Regions from separate parts of the Homo sapiens genome. Here regions 2 and 3 are each reported to be linked to region 1. Evidence: microRNA targets listed by miRTarBase, many of them from high-throughput screens and not tested one by one. Region 1 holds a microRNA gene; each other region holds the end of a gene's coding sequence.
Evidence for each region. Region 1 holds the annotated microRNA hsa-miR-149-3p (AGGGAGGGACGGGGGCUGUGC, at 2,067-2,087, shown strand). A microRNA usually pairs through its seed, bases 2 to 8, with sites in the 3' UTR of a target mRNA and lowers its output. Matches are read on the target gene's strand: a 7mer-m8 pairs with bases 2 to 8, a 7mer-A1 pairs with bases 2 to 7 and ends in A, and an 8mer does both.

Region 1 (5,176 bases):
CGCAGTGCGCGGCGGAGGTTCTGCGGCGGCGGAGGGGCTCCTTGGCGACGCTGTCATTTGGGTGAAATGGTGGCGGGGGGGCTTCGGGCAGACGGCAGGGGTGTGGGGAGGGGAGGGAAGCACGATGGGGTGAGTCTGGGGGCCGTGGATGCCGTTGACGAGGAGCTGAGATGCCGTGGCCGGTCCACCTCGCAGGTGGGGCCAAGGCTGCCTCTGGCTCAGACGTCAGGAGCCCAGGCGGACAGGGACTGGCCAGGGGCGCAGGCTTCTTAGAGGATGGGGCAAAAGTGAGGAAAAGATCCTCTGCAGCCTGGGCAGTGGGTGGTCCCCAGGAAACCCCCTGGGTCGTTTGTCCAGTGCACCCTCACCCCAGGAGGCTGCTGGACGTGCCGGAGGATGCCACAGCCACCGGAGCTGGTTGGGGTCCGAGAGCAGATGGGCCAGGGGCTGGGGCAGGCTTCGAGAAGAGGGTTCGGGCTTGGGGAAAGCCTTCGCAGCCATCGGCCAGCCAGGAAGGCCCCGTTGCCGGGTGCAGAGCTGAGTAGAGGGCAGGAGCGGGGAGGCCTAGGCTCTTCCCTTGCGTGTTGGGGGGCTGCGGTGCCTGGAGCTCTGCACACAGCCCTACTCCAGCACCGTGGGAGGCAATGCAGGCTGACTGTCCACGCCAAATTCCGGTACCTTAGGCATTCGAGTCTGTTGACACTGAGTGTCTAGGACGAGGCTGTAAAGGTGGATAAAGCCGGCTTTACAGTCTGCACCTCCTGTGTGAGCCGTGGAAGCTTCTGGAGGGATGGGCGTGGCGTGGCGCCATCATCTCTCTGCATTCTCCTTGGGAGGGCTCCAGAGCCACTGGTCACGGGCAGCTGCCAGGCTGGGTCTGGACAAATGAGGTCTGGGTCCATCATTGGGGATGGGGGCCACTGTCAGGATGGGAGTCTCGCCTAAAGCTTTGGGGTGAAGGTGCTGATGACCAAGAGGAAACTGCGGGGTGGGGACATGTCAGCAGGGGACGAGAATGCATGACCTAAAAGGTATCCAAAGTTAAGGCTGGTGGGGGCTTAGTGAGGAGCAGCAGAGTGGGGTGGTCCAGAACCGTCAGGATCGGGAGGGGGAAGATGGAACGAGACAGCAGCTGCCTACGAGCCAGGGAGCAAGAGCTCTGTGCTTTAACCTGAGGAGCAGGAGCCTGGGAACTGGAGACTCTGGGTTTGAGGTGGGGGATGAATCTGCCATTAAACAAATAATCCCCTTCCCCCCCAAAAAAATCCTCAGAGCACTGGGGAAGGGAAGTGTCCCAGTGACTGAGGGAGGGGAGCGCTGTGGAAGGATGGGTCGGCTACAGCAACTTCAGCCCAGGGATCAGGGAAGAGAGGGTCCAGTCCCTGGCCCAGCGGGGAGCAGGCCCGGTGACCTTGACCTGAGCAGCCCCAGGGCCAGAGGGAGGGGTGGGCCGGAAGGGCCCAGATGCCTCCCTGCACGGGGGGAAGGGGATGGGCTGCCGGGACTCACCCCCTAGGTTGGAAAATGCCTCCCTCTGGGTTGGAGGAGGAGAAAGGCCAGGAAGGAGAGGGAGAGGGACATGGGGAGGGTTCCCTCCTGGCCTGAGGCCTCTCTATCCCCAGGTGTTGAGCTGAGAGAAGTGGTGGGGAGGCCCCTGGGGGTGGGGAGGCCCCTGGGTGGGGAGATTTAAGATGACAGCTGGTCTTGGGCACATTGCTCTCCATTCAGAAAGGCCCCAGCCCCTGGCATTCTTCCAGGAGGGGGCTTGCTTTGCCGCCCTGCAGGGGGACTCTGCAGAGCCGGCCTCTGCCATCTCATGTCCAGGACCACAACCTGTGGCCCCGGCCTGCGCCGGGCCGGAGCTCCGCAGAAGGAAGCCAGCGGGAGGCCTCCTGCCTTTGACTGCCGTGCGTCCAGCCTGCAGCGGGCCTCAGGGGGCCGCCTCGATCCAGCCTGCCCGAGGCTCCCAGGCCTTCGCCCGCCTTGCGTCCAGCCTGCCGGGGGCTCCCAGGCCGGCGCCCGAGCTCTGGCTCCGTGTCTTCACTCCCGTGCTTGTCCGAGGAGGGAGGGAGGGACGGGGGCTGTGCTGGGGCAGCTGGAACAACGCAGGTCGCCGGGCCGGCTGGGCGAGTTGGCCGGGCGGGGCTGAGGGGTCGGCGGGGGAGGCTGAGGCGCGGGGGCCGGTGCGCGGCCGTGAGGGGGTGTGAGAGGTGGCTGACGGCGCCGAGGAGCCCCTCAGAACCTGCAGGTGGGGGGAGCTCCCATATCTTACGGGTGTTTCGGGCCTCACCTCTCCATGCCTCTCGTCAGCCTCTCCCGTCTGCGTGGTGGGGGCTGGGGAGTGGGTCCGCCGGGACCTCGCGAGGGAGGGGCACAGGAGGAGCCGGCGGGGGACGCCACCCACCCTCCTCCCTAGGAGTGCTTGAGCCCTAGTCCTGAGTCTTGGACCAGCTCACTCGGTTCCTGTGGCCCAGCCAGCCTGGCCTGGGTGCCCCGTCACAGCTGAGCCCATCTCAGCTGAGCCCAGGGTGTGTCACCGGGAAGCTCAGCTGGCACCTGCCACCCCCTCCCCCAGGCACGTTTCCCTCCCACTGCCCAGCCCATTACCATCATGTGTCCGGCTGACCTGTGCTCTCCTGGTCTGGGCAGCCTGGATGGGTGCACAGGGCCCCATCACAGCCCACACCCTCGGAGAGACGCCTCCTGAGTCTGCTCAGCCTGGCACAGGCCCCAGGAAAGGACCCGGAGGGGCGGTTCCTGCTCTAAATCCTGCCCCCACGGGGGTGGGACTGGGGCAGAATCCCATCAGTGAATAAAGGCTGCAGAGTGAAGGATGGTCCCTGGCGAGTGTACCTGTGTCCCAGTCTTCTTGCCTGAGGGCGCCTTCCCACCCATGTGAGGAGTGGGGAAGGAGCACCCCTTCTCTACTAGGCCCCAGGGCTCTCAGAGCCGGGCTCTGTCCTCACCCCAGCTGGCTCCCACAAGGCCCTCCTGGCCCCAGACTCTGTTGGACCCCCAACTCCCCCTCCAGCAGGCATCTGGAGGTAAGGAGGGGCGGGGGGCGCAGGTGCACTTGCCATTCCCGCTCTGTCTGCAGCATGGGCACATGTAAGTCCAGGCCCTGGGGAATCCCTGGACCTGCAGCCCCTGCGGAGGACTCCCTCCCCCTCTAGCTCAAGCCAGAGCCCCCTGCATCAGTACATTCCAGAACTCAGACAGGAAAAGAGGGCAAGGAGGGAGCGCTCCAGGATAAGAACCCCTACCTCGGCCCTCCCTCGCTCTCCCAGGCCCCTCTGACAACCTGTCTCCTTGCTGTCATGTCAGCAGGCACAGAGGCTACAGGGGCCAAGCGGCAGCCGCCCAAGCCCGGATTCGGGTTCTCTGTTCCCTTCTCTTGTCTCGGGCTCCTCCCTGAGTGTGTGTACTTAGAGGGTGCGGAAGATCAGCAAACTCAGTCTGACCCAGGCATTCAACCTCTGGGTAGTTACCTAGTCCTGGGTCCCCACCCCAGATGGCCTCTAGTGGGTAAGGGCTTCCTGGACCCCAGGCCTGAGGGGTGACTTCTCTTGCAGTAAGCGGGTAGGGCACTGCCTGCGCTGCTCCAGGCCCTGCCTGCAGTGGGGCTACAGATCCCTGCTCCCACCTCCAGGCAGGGCTGGAGCTGCTGCCAGCTCCCCCAGGACAGCCTCGAGCCAGGTGCCTCTGCCCGGGCTGACCCCGCCCTCGGTCCCGGTCCTGGCTCCCTCTCCTGCCTCTCCTCCCTGGCCTGGCCTTCACTTCCTGCTGACCCTCAGGAGGGCGTAAAAGAATGCAGGACCTGCTGCATTCCAGCCACCCTGGCCCAGGGTCCCAGAACAGGATGAGACAGGCCCCTGAGGCGGCAGTCCTGAGGAAAGTTGCTGGAATTCCTGCTGACAACGCCCCCCCTTGACCCCACCCCTCTGACCAAGCCAGGCTCCTGCTTCCACCTCTCCACTGTGCCTGACCTAGGCCAGCACCAGGAGGGCCTTAGAGGCGGGGGACGAGGCCCAGAAGGAACAGTGTGGCCCCGTCAGTGTGGAGTCCTGAGCTTAGGCAGCCGGAACCACTTGCCCCCTCACTGTATAGCTGGGACGAGACCTCATCCCTGTAAGCCCCGGTTTTCTGGTTAATAAAATGAGGATTGCGGCAGCCTTCATCACAGTGCGATGCACACCCTTTAAAAAATGCAGTTTTTCCTGATGCCACACACCCATTCCAGGTGGGCCCTGAGGTGTGCACAGCAGGGCTGAGAGCTGACTCAAAGCCTGTCCTGTCCCCACTCCCCACAAGGAGGTGAAGCTGTCTCTGATGGCAGTGCCGCTGTCACTGCCTCGGACGCTGGAGCAGAGTAGCTCATGGCAGGCTGCAGAGGAGGGGACTCCACAAGGACACCAGGAGGCACAGGGTGCACCCTGCAGGGCTTGGGGCATGGTCCAATGACCCTTTCATGGGGCCTGCCAGCTGCACCAGAGCACACCTGCCCCCATACCAGACTCGTGCCTGGGGTCCTGCAGGGCCACTGCCTCTGACCAGCCCACTGTTGGTGGGATCTGCCGTCCTTGCAGTGGGAGCTTGGTGCCCCCCAGGGCTGGTGTGGGAAGAGAGGGGGATTGGATTCCTTCCTCCTTCCCCATCCTCAGACATGGGCCCAGGCAAGGGGTGCCTTTCGGGCCTGGGAGCCTTCTCCACACTTGCACACAGGAACCTGAGGCCAGTTCTTTGCTTGCAGCTGCTGGGACAGCAGGCTGGGGGGCAGGACTTGCCCAAGGGGCCTCCTGCCCTGTAGAGGCAGCCGTGCTCTTGTGTCACGTGTGGGAAGCTACGGGACCGAAGCCAGGCCTTTTCCTCCCTCCACACCCCGACCACTTCTGCCTTCACCCAGGGCACCCCCCAGGCTGGCCCACCCCTGAGCTGTGCTCCACCCTGGGTCTGCCATCCTGCCCAGGAGAGCCTGAGGGTGCCCTCCTGGCTCCCAGTGCTGTCCCAGCCCCTCTCCCTCACACTGGCCTTTCCCCACAGGTGAGCACCTGCGGATCTGTCCCCAGGGCTACACCTGCTGCACCAGCGAGATGGAGGAGAACCTGGCCAACCGCAGCCATGCCGAGCTGGAGACCGCGCTCCGGGACAGCAGCCGCGTCCTGCAGGCCATGCTTGC
Region 2 (5,000 bases), not on the chromosome of region 1:
TTGGAAAGATGGTATGACACTGTGATGTATAATAAGATATGCAGTATGTATAGATAGTCTTAGTCCCAGTATTCTGGCACACAGCTCCTAAAACCCTGGGAATCTCCAAAGTGATAAATGGTTTTTTGTATGCTAATGAAATGACAGTGATAAGTGGGTTTCTGCATGCCAGAAGCTCCTGGATAGCTTCAAGATAGGGGCTCCTTGCCCAGGAACTAACCACGTGATTAAAGAATTCCGGCTTTCAGCCCCAACACCAACCTTGAAGGAGAGGAAAGGCTGAAGGTTGAACTTATCACCAGTGACCAATAATTTAATCAATTCTGCCTACATAAGGAAGCCTCTATAAAATCCCAAAAGAAAGGCAGAGGCGGGTGGATCACTTGAGCCCAGGAGTTCAAGACAAGCCCGGGTAACATGATGAGACCCCGTCTCTACGAAAAATACAAAAATTGGCTGGGCGTCATGGCGCACACCTGTTAGTCCCAGTTACTCAGGAGGCGGAGAGGGGAGGATTGCGTGAGCCTGGGAGGCAGAGGTTTCAGTGAGCAGAGATCATGCCACTGCACTCCAGCCTGGGTGACAGAGTGAGAACCTGTCTCAAAAACAAAAACAAAGCCAAAGTCCAAAAGAAAAGGGTTTGGATAGCTTCCAAATTGCTGAACAGGTGGACATGCCTAGAAGGTGGGGCACCCAGAAACGGTGTGGAAGCTCTGGACTTCTGCTGGCCTTTCCATATGCATCTCTTCCATCTGGCTGTTCATCTGTATACTTTATTATATCCTTTATTAATAAACTGGAAAATATAAGTAAAGTGTTTCCCTGGGTTCAGTGATCTGCTCTAAGCAAATTAATCAAACCTGAAGAGGTAGGCATAGAGACCCCGATTTACAGTGGGTTGGTCAAAAGTACAGGTCACAACCTGAAGCTTGTGATTGGCATCGGAAGTGGGAGGCAGTCTTGGAGGATTGAACCATTAAACTGTGGGATCTGACGCTATCTCCAAGTAAATAGTGTTAGAATTGAATTAAATTATAGGACCCCCAGCTGATGTCTGCTGGAGAATTGCTTGGTGTGTGGGAAAAACCCCCATGCATCTGGTCACAGAAGCTTTCTGTGTTATACTGAGTGAATGTAAGAGTAAGAAGAGCACTTTGGGTGAGGTGCAGTGCCTCATGCCTGTAATCCCAGCAATTTGAGAGGCTGAGACGGGCAGATCACTTGAGGCCAGGAGTTCGAGAACAGCCTGGCCAACACGGCGAAACTCTGTCTCTATAAAGAAAGAAAACTAAGAAAAAATTTAAAAAGAAAAGCATTTTGATCTTTTCCCCCATCTCTATTAGATGGTGTGAATGTACCTGGTCTCCAAGCTTTTTGAATTGTGTCTATCAGCAATACAATTTTGAACTGAAATCCCTAACGTAAGAAATGTACACAAAACCACAGAAACTTAAAAGGACGAAATAAAATATATAAATAGATGTTCTAATATTCCCACACCCCTTGGAAGGTCATGTGTACCTGCTGTCCATGCACCCCATTTTGGAGGACACTAATGGAAGAGTAAAGGCAGTGTTGGTATCTGTAGTGTGAAGAGGCCCAGGACTGCTTCAGATGATCTCTACACCTGGAATCTGACCTGAAATAAGCTCTGATCTGAAATCAGATCTGAAATCTGTAATTAAGAATCTGACTTAATTTATGTTTGACTGCTGGTGGCTTTTAAGCCTTATCCCACCCCTCGTCCCCTTATGCCCTACACCTCTGGCAAGCTAAGAAAGCCTGGGTGCTCGCCAGACATGGTGGCCCATGCCTGTAATCCCAGCACTTTGGGAGGCCGAGGCAGGAAGATGACTTGAGCCCAGCCTGGGCAACATAGTGAGACACCATCTCTTTAAAAAAATAAAGCAAGCAAGCCTGGGTGTTTCCTTCTTTGATACCAGTGGGAAATTCAAACCACATGCAAGAAACATCACTCTGGCCCTACTCCCTAACCACCAAAAAACTCCAAGTCAGTCTCCTTCCCTGTTGTCAAATCCTGCTTAGGAGCTGCCCTGCTTTCCCCAGAAAGCTTCATTATGTGAGTAACAACCCTTTCATACTCTGTTGGTGTGTGTGTGGCTTCATCAGTCATTTTTTTTTTCTTTTTGAGACAGGGTCTCACTGTGTTGCCCAGGCTACAGTGCAATGAAACAATCATAGCTCACTGTAGCCTCCAACTTCTGGGCTCAAGTGATTCTCGTGCCTCAGCCTCCTGAGCAGCTGGGACAACAGGTGTGCACAACCATGCCCAGATAATTAAAAAATTTTTTTTCTTTTTTTGCAGAGATGGGGGTCTCTCTCTGTTGCCCAGGCTGGCCTTGAACTCCTGGCCTCAAGTGATCCTCCTGCCTTGGTCTCCCTAAGTACTAGGATTACAGGCGTGAGCCACTGAACTTGGCTATCAGTCTGGACATGTGAACCAAATTTTGAGTGTGGAATGCATCCTGTCTCAGTGCGGGATGGCCACAAAAAAATAGCATCCTCCTTTACAGTCCATCTACTCCTTTCTTTTCATAGCATTTAATACCACCTGACATATTATATATTTATTGTTTGTCTTCCCCACTAGACAGATCCCCAGCTTTAGTAAAGTGTTTGGTATAATCATCCGAGTGGCTACTTTGCTAGCAGTTAAAGGCACTAGTGCTACAGTCGTGAACAAGGCCCTTGCCCACATGAAGTGTACACTCCAGAGAGAAGGGTAGGTGTTCAATACATATTTGTTAAATGATAGACTATTAATATTATTTTGTCTGGAGGTAAGATATTACAAACATATCATAAATTAAATTTTTTATTCATTTTTTTGCATCAAAATAGTGCTTAAAATTGGAATTTATACTCACAAGACATAGCTAACATCCAAAGTAGACAATTAAAAAATATTATTTGAAAATTATGTACTTAGTACTGAAGACTTCCTAAATTTGCACATTAGCTAGATTGCCATTAGCACCATTAGAGAGTTGATCTTTGGCTAATGATTATTCAGGAAAATTTCAACCATTACAATCAGTGAGTATAATTTTATATTTCAGCAACGATAGTGGTCATGTTCAGCAACAGCTTCACTTACAAATTAAAGTAAGCTCACTTCAGTGTTGCACTCTGATGCTGTTTTTTTACCCCTTCTCTTGCAAATAACCAGTGAAATAAAAATTGCTTCTAACTGGCAATCGAAACAAGGGAGGAATTATGGCTAGCCAACTAGTTGCTAATGTTTGTGTTTTTTTTATTTAAGAAACATTTTAAATAATAGAGATGGGGTCTCACCATGGTGCCCAGGCTGGTTTAAACTCCTAGGCTCAGGCAATCCTCCCACTCGGCCTCCCAACATGCTGGGATCACAGGCTTCAGCCACCATGCCCGGACTGCTAATGTTTGTGAAAGGCAAATTGTAAACTTCTATGGTTTAACTTCACCAGAAGGGTAAAGGGCTCCCCACCTGCCACCTTGTTCTATAAAAAAAGTATACTCTGATTACTAGAATGGATTTTTAAAATTCAATTCAAAGATTCAATAACTATCAACATTTCTAAACACTGATTTTTCTTTTTCTCTTTTTCAAATGTTTTTTAATATCCTGCAGGTAATAACACTGATTTTTCTAATACTCAGAAACATCTACTTAGCAGTTGTGATACTAATTTGCAAAATGTAATAATGTTATACAAATATAAGATACTACTAAATACATAGTAGAAATAATTGCATGATTCCTGATATTTATATTCAAGGTATAAACATGACTGATTTCGCTGATACTACAGAATAAAAAAAATAAAGCTGCTATGTAAAAAATTAAAGAATATCTCAATTAGATATTTTTGTTCCCAATCTCTTTCAGACAGATCTATGAAATAATATAGAATATACTATCAATATGTTCTTTCATATGAAGTGAAAAAAATGGGATTTAAGTAGTGAGATAATTTCTATTTTTTACTTTTTTAAAAAAATAGACAGGGTCTTGCTATGTTGCCCAAGCTGGTCTCAAACTCCTGGGCTCCAGTGTGCTTCCTGCCTCAGCCTCCCAAAGTGCTGGGATTATAGGCATGAGCCATTGTGCCTGGCCTGTGGGATCATTTCTATTGGTTTTATATCAGTATTAATTAATAAGTCAATCAATTAATTAACCTTAATTATTTCTTTTTCTAAATAAGTATCAGCTGATTTAATCTCGCCCAATTGAATGCGTCTCTTTTGGTTGATCAATGCGATAGAGAAACTCTGCAGGTAAGAAGTATCCAAGATATTCCACTATATCTGGAGTAGTGTCATAATGGTAGTGTCCACCTTCTCCATGACGACTAAAAAAATGAGTGTGCTCCAGTCGCAAATCAAACCCCTAAGATAACAGACAAACAATATGTTAGTACTCAAATTATTGATTAGAGTTTAAGGGGGAGGGATAACTTTTTACGTTGCAATAGTTTTTATTTTTTAAATAGGTAATACATTCACATGTTCTAAATTCAAAGGGGGCAAAACGATGTATTCAGTAAAATGTATCTTCTTCTCTCTTGCCCTCACCACTCACTCCCCTTCCTAGCAGGTAACCAGTGTAAGCATTTTCTTGTATATCCTTCCATAAATACTTACTTTTATTTTTACTCAAATGTAGTATTTTGTACACACTTTTCTGCATGTAACTTTTTTTCATGTAACAATATAGTTTTGAGATCTTTGTATATGAAATCATAAAAGAGCTTCCTCATTCTTTTATACCTGCATGGTATTCTATTGCGTATGTAACTTCTCAACTGACACTTGCATTATTTCTAATTCTTTTGCTACTACAACAATACTGTAATAATAACCTTTTAACTAGTAATTTTACACAATTATGCATATATTTAAGTATAATATCCTAGGCATGTAATCACTGGATCAAGATATGACCAGGGTAGGCGGAGTAGCTCATGCCTGTAATCCCACCACTTTGGGAGGCTGAGGCG
Region 3 (5,000 bases), not on the chromosome of region 1:
AGAGCAAGACTGTCTCAAAAAAAAAAAAGAAAAAAAAATTTAAAAAAAAGGAAAACCAGTGTCAAAACACTAAAATGCATTCCAAAATCAAAATCAAGTGGCTATGATTTGTGGCACTCCTTCGAATTAGCAGTGATAATCAAGAAATGAAAATTGCAATTATTTCTCCTGGGAAAACTACTCTTAGTACTATACACTATATGCAGATGAAAATGGTAAGGGCTGAGAAGGTAACAGTGTTCAGTTGGTATTTTATTTCTCCTGGAAGATGCAGGGATTGGGAGGGAGGCAAGGATAAAGCCACGGAAGAAGTAATCAAGACTTCATAGTATTAAGGACGGTGGAAAACTTCCCCAGCCAAAGGAGCAGTTCTGAATGCTTTGCTATACATTCCTAGGGACAATATGATGAAGAAAAGATATAGACAGATGTGGGACTTCTTCATGCCCCAAACTGAACTTACTTATTTTCATTTGTTGTCTTTTAAACCACAGAAGTGCTAACTGAATAACCCTATGAAATGCAATGGAGTTCAGATATCTTAGAGAATCATAAAAATAGAAATGGAAGTTTTATTTTATTCTGGAGGGAAAGGGCTGTTTTGGGCACTTTTCATGGCTGGGGGAGCAGAATTGATTTACTTGTTAATCTTTTTGGCAATTGAGAAATCTTTTCTATTTTTGAGATGGAGTCTTGCTCTGTCACCCAGGCTGGAGTGCAGTGGCACAATCTCGGCTCACTGCAACCTCCGCCTCCTGGGTTCAAGTGATTCTCCCGCCTCAGCCTCTTGAGTAGCTGGGATTACAGGCAGCCACCACCATACCTGGCTAATTTTTGTATTTTTAGTAGAGATGGGGGGGTTTCACCAGGTTGGCCAGGCTGGTCTTGAACTCCCGACCTCAGGTGATCTGCCCACCTTGGCCTCCCAAGTGCTGGGATTACAGGCATGAGTGCCCAGGCGGCAATTGAGAAATCTTAACTTCGGATTCCTAGCTGTGAACTTCCTCTTTATCAGCAACTGACTCCATACTGGAACATTTTCAAAGGAGTGCTAATAAGATTCACCCATCAAATATGTGTTGTATTACAAGATCAATGACACCCTACAGCCTTTGTTCCCATGGGCAACTTTGCTGTAAGACACGTAGTTAAGAATCATACATACCCTCAGAAAGAATTTGACATGTATTTTCAAATGCAGTGAGTTAGGCAGAATGCAAAGCAGAGTAACAAGATTTTACCTACTGCTTACTTTTTCATTTTACATGTGTATTTAATATGTTCAATGCAGCAAGAATTGCTGATATTATTACTGTGAGATGACGTGTAAAAATAACACTAGGAACAGGTAGTATACATCAAGACCAACACGAATGCATTGATAAAGATGGAAAACACAAGAGAAAAACATTAAATAGTCTTATTACAAGAAAAAAGGATAAGGGTTAAATGATTCAAAATCTAAACAAAAATTAATATACAGATATACTGTCTTCCATTCAGTGCATGAAAGAATTATCTGGATATAAAAATCAAGTATCCTTACATTCTGGGTTTCTTGGATACAATTTTCTCCTCAAAAATAATTTTTCAACTATTTCAGGAAATTTTTAAATCTAAAATAACTCTTTTTAATCTGGGCTCCAAGAAGAAAAAAGAAATAAATACTTATAATCAATTGACTGCTCTGCCTTGAAAAAAAAAACGAATTTTACTTTTAGGTTAGAAATAATGGGGATCATGATGCAATTCATATTCTCGTATTACCCCCAAAATAAGGGTAGATAAAATCATATTCATCATTCTTTGTGATAAGAAATAATACCTTCTCAGAAGGCGAAGAAAAGAATTTCAAGATCGGTAACAATGGAGAAGAGTCAACAAAATATTTGAAAATTCTAGCATTATAAGATTAAGCTTAATAATCAAAGGACTGTCAATTTTTATATGATTGTCATAAAATATGAAAGTCAAAATTCTTCTTGGTAAAGTCAGGTGTCTGGACAAACTATCACCTTCATTCAGGTTACCCTGGCTTGAGGTAAAGACCTTTTCATCTGAATTTGCATGAAAGGTTTCTGCAGCTTGACAGCATGAGGCTGTTCTCCGGTGTGCACTCCTAGGCACCTGAATACTGTGTGTGATTAACTGAGGCTCATTTTATGATAGTTTAAATCTGCAACATAAATTTAATTCAGCTTTTTTTTCTCAACAGTTCTGCCTAGTATCCCTGTTTAGGCACAGGCAAAATCTTTATTTTTACAAGGACTAAATCATTATGAATTTGAGAGAAGTAAGTCATCAGGAACTAGTACATACAGTCATATGTTACTTAATGATAAGTATACATTCTGAGAAATGCATTGTCAGGCAATATTGTCCTTGTCTGAACATCATAGAGTGTACTTACACAAACCTAGATGGTATAGGCTCCTACACACCTAGGCTATATAATATAAACTATTGCTCCTAGGCTACAAACCTGTACAGCATGTTACTGTACTGAATACCAAAGGCAACTGTAATACAATGGTATTTGTGTATCTAAGCATAGAAAAGATATGCTAAAAATATGGTATTATAATCTTATAGGACCACTGCTGTATATGCAGTCTGTGGTTGATTGGAATGTCATTATGAGCTGCATGACTATATCCTGCCAAATTTTCACTTTAGAGACTATAAGCCTAAAGGAAAGAGAAGATTCCTCTTACCTGCAATTAAACAATGCTTTTCAAAGTCTCTAGAGTTTGGATTCATAGTTGGTATTTATCAATGGTTGTTTGTATCACAATTTTAACACAAAGGATCACCCAGTTATCTTTCAGAGTCTAAAATTAAAGTCTTCATATCTTTCTATTGTGATTTTGGTGTATGTATGTATAATTAAGCACAAAATCCCAAAAGATCTGGAAAGTGCCATAGAGCAAGGTGCTTTCCATAAGGGAATTAGATTAAAAAAAATTTACTTATTCTTTTTTGAACAGTCAGTTACACAATGTAGTTTTAGCCTGCTGAAGTCAATGGCTAGATAAAGCAAAGTTACTATCAATGATTTGCTCCTGAATAAAAGCCTTATATTCCAGGAACAGAGCAGAGGCTCCCTGGCCAGTGAGAACCAATACCAGTCAATTCTGCTGGTAGCAAGCAAGATACCTGGATAGAAAAGCAGCATTCCAGAGGCCTCAGGAGTGCTAATAACTCTCTTCTCCCTTGTGCTCAAAGTCTCCTTCTATGTATTTATTTCTAGTGTCTATAAGAATATGCTCACAAAAAGTCTGAATAAAAACCAGATACCATTTCACATTAGTATGTTATTAAAAATTTACCTCTAGTACTCCTGGTGAGAAGTGACAAATTCAAGCAAATGCTTTTGTTATCACTTTTGGGCTTCATCATGTTAAAGAGAAAAGATGTTGCTAAATATATGACAACCCCGGTCACTTTATTGCTATGGTCTAAATGATTTGGGCTATTTAATGATTTCTGTATCATCTAAGACAAACAAATCAAGAACTCCGTTTAAAGCAGTTATTGCAGAAATATACTGTGTGAGGCCCCAGTTAAGCTTTTACTGATTTGAAGTGTTTTTCTCAAATAAAAATTAAAAAAATACTTTTCACTGAAGGTAACTGAGAAATTGTTTGATTCAACATAAAGACGAAGACACATTTTCTTCTATTTTTTGAGACAGTACACTTTGTGATTCACAGGATAACTTGCATCAGACGCAATTTAATGAAAGCTCTCAAATAAGCGATTTTATTCCTATCCATGATTGCAGACATTTACAAAACCATAACATCTGAGTTCACCTTAAAAAATAACTTATATAAAGCAGTGATATACACAGCACAAAATAGTTCAGGGAGGGGGCAGGAGCAACTTGTAATAATTAAAATGTAAACGTGAAAAAAAGGATGGAATAAAAGTCCCTACTTATTTCTACTTAAGATGTCATGTGATAATATTTTACAATGTCCTGTGGGTCAATGTATGTATGTGTATATGTCTGTATAACATACACATATACAGTACATTCTCTTTCCCACACATATACATACACACATAATTATTTGCAGTTCAGTTTAGGGCAATTCTAATATGCCACTCCGTACAGTTGTTTGAATCACATTTGGACCCGCTTTCTTCACAAAAGAGGGGAGAGAGCAGGAAATAAAAAGGTTGGTTTGGTGTGACTGAGATTCCTTTGTTTAACTGTACACTGTGATGAATAATTTTCTTCCGTAGTAGTTCTGTGAAGGGCTGACTCACTGTGGTTTTCATGAGGAGACTTGGTAATGGATCACACGCTCATTGTCATGCTAGGGGAGTACTAGAAGGAAAGAAGAATCCATATTTTAACAACAATTCTTTTAGAGATCACTAAGGTTCTTCTTGGTACAACAGAAACGATGAATTCTAATTTCTTATCATCTTTTATGTGCAAGCTTTTCATCTCATACAACATAAAATAAGAAACTATAAAAAAAGTAAAATGATACAGACTTAACTTAGTACTGAAATTTTAAATATTTCCCCTGGAAAGCATCAAGTCCTATCCTCTCCCTGCACCCAGAGGCTCATCATTACCCAGTCCCTCTGCCTCCCTCCATCCAGACAGATTTATGTTTTGCAGGCACTTGTAAAAACCTTTGGTAAATTTAGTCCAAGGCTGGATCATAACTAAGTAAGTATGAGGTCTAGTCTTTGCTGTCTACTAGCTTGTAAACTGAGGAGGCTACCTAACCTGTCTTGACTTCAGTTTCCCTATCTGTAAAGGGGCTTGGGGAAGATGAGATATAAAATCCTTAAACCATGTATTTATTGAATACACAGAAAGTGCTCAGCAAGTGTTAGGTTAATACTGTAGGGAAACAAAACAGAAACAACTCCAAGCTGGCCCTGGGAAGCTCTCATTAAAGCATTTAAAATACTTAAGAGTCTAATTTATACTTCAGCATTTAAGCATCTTGCCCATAATCTGTGACTCTAATCTT

Region 2: miRTarBase lists C11orf54 as a target of hsa-miR-149-3p. Seed matches in the 3' UTR shown: 7mer-A1 at 1,831-1,837.
Region 3: miRTarBase lists SSBP2 as a target of hsa-miR-149-3p. Seed matches in the 3' UTR shown: 7mer-m8 at 3,868-3,874 and 8mer at 279-286.

The regions. Positions count from the first base shown.
Region 1 is chr2:240,453,990-240,459,165 of GRCh38, forward strand. It overlaps MIR149 (microRNA 149), which reads left to right and starts at 2,012; the gene lies at 2,012-2,100. GPC1 (glypican 1) reads left to right here. Exons shown (of 9, transcript NM_002081.3): 2 at 5,041-5,176. GPC1-AS1 (GPC1 antisense RNA 1) reads right to left here and starts at 2,711. Exons shown (of 3, transcript NR_161169.1): 1 at 2,608-2,711. RefSeq lists enhancers at 1,312-1,962, 3,915-4,566, 4,567-5,176.
Region 2 is chr11:93,760,905-93,765,904 of GRCh38, reverse strand. C11orf54 (chromosome 11 open reading frame 54) reads right to left here. Exons shown (of 9, transcript NM_001286069.2): 9 at 1,156-4,390. The coding sequence ends at 4,217. Among named protein-coding and RNA genes, the nearest start is that of MED17, 21 kb to the left of the region's middle.
Region 3 is chr5:81,416,198-81,421,197 of GRCh38, forward strand. SSBP2 (single stranded DNA binding protein 2) reads right to left here. Exons shown (of 17, transcript NM_001256732.3): 17 at 1-4,336. The coding sequence ends at 4,307. Among named protein-coding and RNA genes, the nearest start is that of ACOT12, 25 kb to the left of the region's middle.